2 separate regions of the Homo sapiens genome follow, and region 2 is linked to region 1. Evidence: fine-mapped expression QTL. A gene starts in region 1. The other region holds a variant in brackets. All regions are shown on one strand. Distances are from middle to middle. Region 1 holds the start of BCAR1 (BCAR1 scaffold protein, Cas family member). Region 2 holds the start of CTRB1 (chymotrypsinogen B1).

The links. PIP is the estimated chance that this variant, and not a neighbour inherited with it, causes the effect.
Region 2: its variant is the best candidate, but not a certain one, in a credible set for the expression of BCAR1 in unexposed skin (GTEx, PIP 0.77).

The regions. Positions count from the first base shown.
Region 1 is chr16:75,250,237-75,253,132 of GRCh38, forward strand. It overlaps BCAR1 (BCAR1 scaffold protein, Cas family member), which reads right to left and starts at 1,388. Exons shown (of 7, transcript NM_014567.5): 1 at 1,235-1,388. The coding sequence starts at 1,246. RefSeq lists silencers at 1,271-1,430, 1,491-1,600 and enhancers at 1,600-2,140, 2,681-2,896.
Region 2 is chr16:75,218,181-75,221,076 of GRCh38, forward strand. CTRB1 (chymotrypsinogen B1) reads left to right here and starts at 808. Exons shown (of 7, transcript NM_001906.6): 1 at 808-879. The coding sequence starts at 828. RefSeq lists an enhancer at 346-425. The variant T/A (reference allele first, on the strand shown) is at 1,726.

The sequences.
Region 1 (2,896 bases):
AGGAGGAAGTGTCAGCAGCTCCTCCCCAAAGCTCTTTTCCCCACAGCCCCGCCACCCCCGTACCTGGGCCCCGATTCTCCAGGCACCCCGACACCTGCTCTCACAGGCCGGCCAGCCCCCACCACCCAACTCTCCACCGAGGGAAAGGAATGGGCACAAGAGGGGGCGTGTCCCGGCCCAGGGCGATGGGAAACATCTCACTAGCAAAGAAGAGATCAACCCATGGTCATTCTGAGAAGGTGACCAAAGCTGCGGCGGGCCCCGGGAGGGGTGTGGGAAAGGAAACCAGGGACTCTCAGGAGGGAACGGGAGCCTTGTGGTAGAAAAGGAGCTGCTGTCCCCGATCTGGAACTCGAAACCCCAACATCTTCCAGGCCGTAAGCCCCTCACCCCGCACCCCTAGGCAAATCTCCGCTTTCCCAACTCCCTCACCTCGGTCCAGCGATCAGCCTCTCGGACCCTCGAGAGGGAGCTCCGACCCTGCTCTAGCTCTTGCGGGTCCCCCAACCATGGACTCCAAAGCCTTCATGTCCACACTGCAGAACCCGGCCCTGGCCCCCTCCCGCGACACTCGCGTGCGGCTAGGACTCCTGTGGCCAGGACCCGGCTTCCACCGGCGCTCGGCGTGCGGGGCTGCAAAGCCCGCGGCGCGCCCGCCCCCACTCCCGCTCCGCTCCCGGAACCCCGCGCCGGCGGCCGGAGTGAATCATTAACTGGAGCCGGGTGCTCCGGCTGCGCAGCCTTCCCCGCTGGCGCCACGCACTTGCCCGCCCGGCCTCGGTCCCCCGGAGCTCCTCCCTCTCCGGGAGCCGGTGGGCAGTCCCCACGCCACACCAGCCGGACCACCCGCCAGAGGCTCAACGGCCCCTCCTCGCAGCCGAGGAAACTGAGGCTCGGAGGCAGGGCGCAGAGGCCCAAGGTGACACAGCAGGCGGCCGTCGGCCGGGGAGCGCGGGCCCCGCCAGCCACTTTCCCGACACAGGAACCCTCCTACCGGCTGGCGGCCCCCGCGCCCGGCCCCGCCAACGCACCCGAGGCGCACAGGCTCCGGAGCCCCCGCGGTTCCTGCCTCCCGGCTTCCCGGCCAGGGCAGAAGGAGATCCCAGGGCCGCGGACCCCGGCCGGCGGTTCCCAGGCCCCGCAGGTCCGGCAGGAAATGCCGCTCGCTTAACCCCTTCCAGCCCGCTGCCGCCTCCAAGCCCGTACGCGGCCCGGCCCCACCTGGCGCCCTCACCAGGTGGTTCATGGTGTCCGGCGGGCCTGGGGCCCCGGCTCTCGCGGGGGCGCACACCGAGCTGCCCGGGCCGCGTGCCCTCGGGGCTCCGAGCGCGCCGCAGCCGCCCCGGTGCCGCCGCGCAGCTGCCGCCTCGGCCACCCAGAGCCGGTCCAGCCGCTCTCCGCCTGCCGCCACGGCCCAGCCGGCCCAGCCCGATCCCAGCATGCCCGGCCGCGCGCGCCCATTGGCCGCCGCCGCTCTCCATGCAAATAAGCCGCCTGTCGGGGGCGCGGGCGCGCAGACAGAAGCCCGCCCAGTAGGGGCCGCCCCCCGCCCCGCCCCCCACCTCCAACCCCGAGGCTCCAGGCCCCTGCCCGAGGCCAGGCTTCCAGCCTAGGGCGCAGGACACCGCTCTCCAACAAATGCACGTCCCCGCCTTCCACCCAGGCGAGAACGCACCGAAGGCCTACGCAAACTCCTCCACTTCTGGGAAGGCTGCCCGGTTTGCCTTCTTCCTCCAGAGCCGAGACATGGCCTCAAGTCGACTTGTCTTTCCCGCTAACCAACCCCAGGGCATTCATCGCGTGTCCATGGGCCGTGGGACTCAAATCTGAATCTAGAGGGAAAGGGGAGGGGGCGTGCCCCAGCCTGTAGGAGACGAATCATCACCACCACAGCTCCGACTGTAGACGGTCCCACCGTGTAAGGACCCCAGGAAATGAAGCCTCAAGCAGGGAGGCTGGCGAGCTCTCGACCCAGCGCTTTTCACGGGCAGCACCTACCTTCCCCTGCATTGTGCCGACATCTGGGGACTCGGGCTGGTCCTCCAGCTGATCTGCCTCCTCTCATTACTCATTCCTAGGTTCAGCCTAAAACCTGGGCCTAGTACCCTCCTGAGTCCTGCTCCAACTCATCTGCTTCAGCGACATGGGGTAGGAGAGCGGCACTGGGGGAATGAGGGAGATAGAAGGAAGAATCACTCGGGGGAAACCGAGTGGAGACAACCTTGGCTCTCCTGAGTTGCCCCTTGCTCGGTTGCAGGTCAGTGACTGTCACCCCATGCAGCAGAACCAGGGTGCCAGAGCCCCTGGGCCAGGCCAGGGAGGCACAATCTGCAGGGAGATGATAGGACCGAGCCTGGTCCAGACCAGACAGGACCCTCAGTCAACAATCCTGGGCCACTGGCTGAGCAATGGGATGCCACGAGGCAGCCCTGGTGGCAGGGAAGCAGCGGGGTAGACCCGGCTTCACGCAGCAGAGAATTCTCAAGCATGGCCTATGGAAGACACAAGCCCAGGTGGGCCTGCAGCTGCCCCTCTGTCTGACCCCCAGGGCTCAGCCTACGCAGCGCCTGGCCAGATGTGCCACCTTGGCAGGCCCTCTCCCCTCTCTGGGCTCCTTTCTCATCTGAAAAGGGGCTAGGACAGCCCATGATTTGCTGCTCAGGTGCTCTGGGGAGCTAGTTAAAAAACAGACTCCTGTGTCCCACCCCTCCCAAAAAACTGGACGTCTGCATTTCTTCAATATTTGGCTTGGGAAGCATTGGCCAGAACTCACAGCACAGCGGGTGAGGAAGGAGCAGTGGGATGAGACAGAGCATGACCCAGAGTCCTCAGGAGGAACAGAACAGCTAGCCAACACCCTGTGCCTCCCCGACACAGCCCGCCTCGCCTCAGAAGA
Region 2 (2,896 bases), 32 kb before region 1:
TGAGGCAGGAGAATCAGTTGAACCCGGGAAGAGGAGGCTGCAGTGAGCTGAAATTGCGCCACTGCACTCCGGCCTGGGTGACAGAGTGAGACTCCATCTTAAAAAGTTTGTTTTCTGTGTCATTTTATGGTGCGGAATCCAAGTTCCATTTTGTAAGAAACTGAAACTTTATGAAATGATTAGTTCCTTATATCATGAGTCATTGCAGAAAAAGTGAATTCTGTTGGGTTCTACAGCACAGGTGGGACGCGTGTCAGTGGCTTTGCCCACCTGTTACGGCCACCAGCGGGTTGGTCCTTGTCACCCAGACCCTCGCCACAGTCAGAAGTGGCTTGGCTTCACTGGTGACTTGCAGTGACACTCTGGAGAATCCACGATGCCCTGAGTCACCCTTTGCTTCTAGGACAGTGTTAGGCGGAAACACCCTTCACTGAGAGCCTGAGTTCCCGGAGACCTGGTTCCATGACAGCAGCTGGTCCTCCACGAGCCCTGGGGTGGAACTGCCTCCACTTCCCCTCTGGGAACAGAAGAGCCTGGTGCCGTCTCCTGGCAGGGATACTGCAGCTCACAGCTGGCTCTGTGGGATCATGTCCCCAAGGCTGACCGGTGATGTCAGCGCAGCTGCCCCTTTCCCAGGGACTGGGGTTGTCTGGTAGAGAGCCAGGCGGGGCTCTGTCTCCACTTATTGCCCAAGGTCCCTGGGTAACAGGGAGGGTGGGCTCAGGCCTCCCTGGCTGGGGGAGCGGGGGGGGCTGGGCTCCCTGCCCCCCCAAGGTGGTAAAAGGGGCCCCGCAGCTGGCAGGCCCCACACCTTCTGAGGCAGCGGCATGGCTTCCCTCTGGCTCCTCTCCTGCTTCTCCCTTGTGGGGGCCGCCTTTGGTGAGTGCTGGTGCCCGAGGGGTCTGTCCTGAGGGAGCCCTGAGCCTGGCTGAGAGGGGGATCTGAGTCCCCTGCTCTGCCCCCTGGGGCCTCATCCCCAGCACAGGTAACCTGAGGGCTCAGGAGAGGGTGCATTCTGGGGCTTTCTGAGCCCACACAACCTGCTCCAGGAGTGGGAAGGACGATGCTGGTCTCTGCCATGGTCTGAGGCTCCAGAAGTGGCTGGGGTGGGGGTGCCTTGTGCAGGGTAAGGTGTGGCCCCAGGAGACCTCCCAAGGCCTCCACCGGGGTTTTTATTGTGCTGGGTACTTGTCAAGCATTTTCTTCCTTTCTTTCTTTTTTTTTTTTCGAGACAGAATTTCACTCCTATTGCCGAGGCTGGAGTGCAATGGTGCAATCTCCACTTACTGCAACCTCCATCTCCTGGGTTCAAATGATCTTCCTGCCTCAGCTTCCCGAGCAGCTGGGACTACAGGCATGGACCACCAACCCTGGCTAATTTTTAGTAGAGACGGGCTTTCACCACGTTGGCCAGGCTGGTCTTGAACTCCTGACCTCAGGTGATGCCCCCGCCTCGGCCTCCCAAAGTGCTGGGATTACAGGCATGAGCTACTGTGCCCAGCCGTGTTTTCTATTTTTTAAAAGAGAAATAGTAAAAGAAAATACAGAAAAGAATATGACATCCTTGTATCTACTGTCAGAATTCAGCAAATCTTTTTGCACATTTGCTTCAGATATTTCTAAAACAGATTGTACTCAGGCTTCCCTTTTCTCCCTCCTTCCCTCTCTGGAATGTGAGCTTGATTCTGAACTTTCTATGAATAATTGCAGTGTGAGCTTATACAA[T/A]TGTACTACATATTTTTATACATCTATACATAAGGTTTCAAAAAGGTTACATCAATGGAACGGTATTCTATCCTGTTTTTGGTTTTGGTTTTGGTTTTGGTTTTGAGACAGGGTCTCACTCTGTCACCCAGGCTGGAGTGCAGTAGTGTGAGTTTGCAGCCTCAAACTCAAGGGCTCGAGTGATCCTCCCACTATAGCCTCCCGAGTAGCTGGCGCTACAGGCACGCTAAGTTTAAAAACTTGTTTTGTTTTGTAGAGATGGAGGTTTTTTTTGTTATTTTTTTTTCTTTTCTTTGAGACAGAGTTTCACTCTTGTCACCCAGGCTGGAGTGCAGTGGCGTGATCTTGGCTCACTGCAACCTCCGCCTCCTGGGTTCAAGCATTTCTCCTGCCTCAGCCTACTGAGTAGCTGGGATTACAGGCATGCATCACCACACCTGGCTAATTTTTGTATTTTTAATAGAGATGGGGTTTCACCATATTGGTCAGGCTGGTCTTGAACTCCTAACCTCCAGTGATCCGCCCACCTCAGCCTCCCAAAGTGATGGGATTACAGGCGTGAGCCCCCATGCCCGACCTGGGGTCTTATTATGTTGTCCAGGCTGGTCTCGAAATCCTGTGCTCGAGTGATCTGCTCACCTCAACCTCCCAGGGTGCTGGATTACAGGTGTGAGCCACTGTGCCTGGCTGATGTAACTAATACTCCATTCTACCTCCATTCTACAACAATGTGCTTTTTCCCTACTCAAATCTTCTCACTTCCTGCATGTTGACGTGGAGTTTCAGCTCATTCACCTGCATTTTTATAATGCGTGCTCTGTTGTGTGAGTATGCCACCATCTAGTTCTCTTATTTATTTATTTATTTTTTTAGATGGAGTTTCACACTTGTCGCCCTGGCTGGAGTGCAGTGGCATGATTTCGGCTCACTGCAACCTCCACCTCCCAGGTTCAAGCATTTCTCCTGCCTCAGCCTCCTGAGTAGCTGGAACTACAGGCATGAGCCACCACCCCAGCTAATTTTTGTATTTTTAGTAGAGACAGGGTTTCATCATATTGGCCAGGCTGGTCTTGAACTCCTGACCTTGTGATCCACCTGCCTCGGCCTTCCAACGTGCTCTTTCTCATTTTTTTGCTATTACAATACCAGTTTTTGATGCTCTGAAACGTCA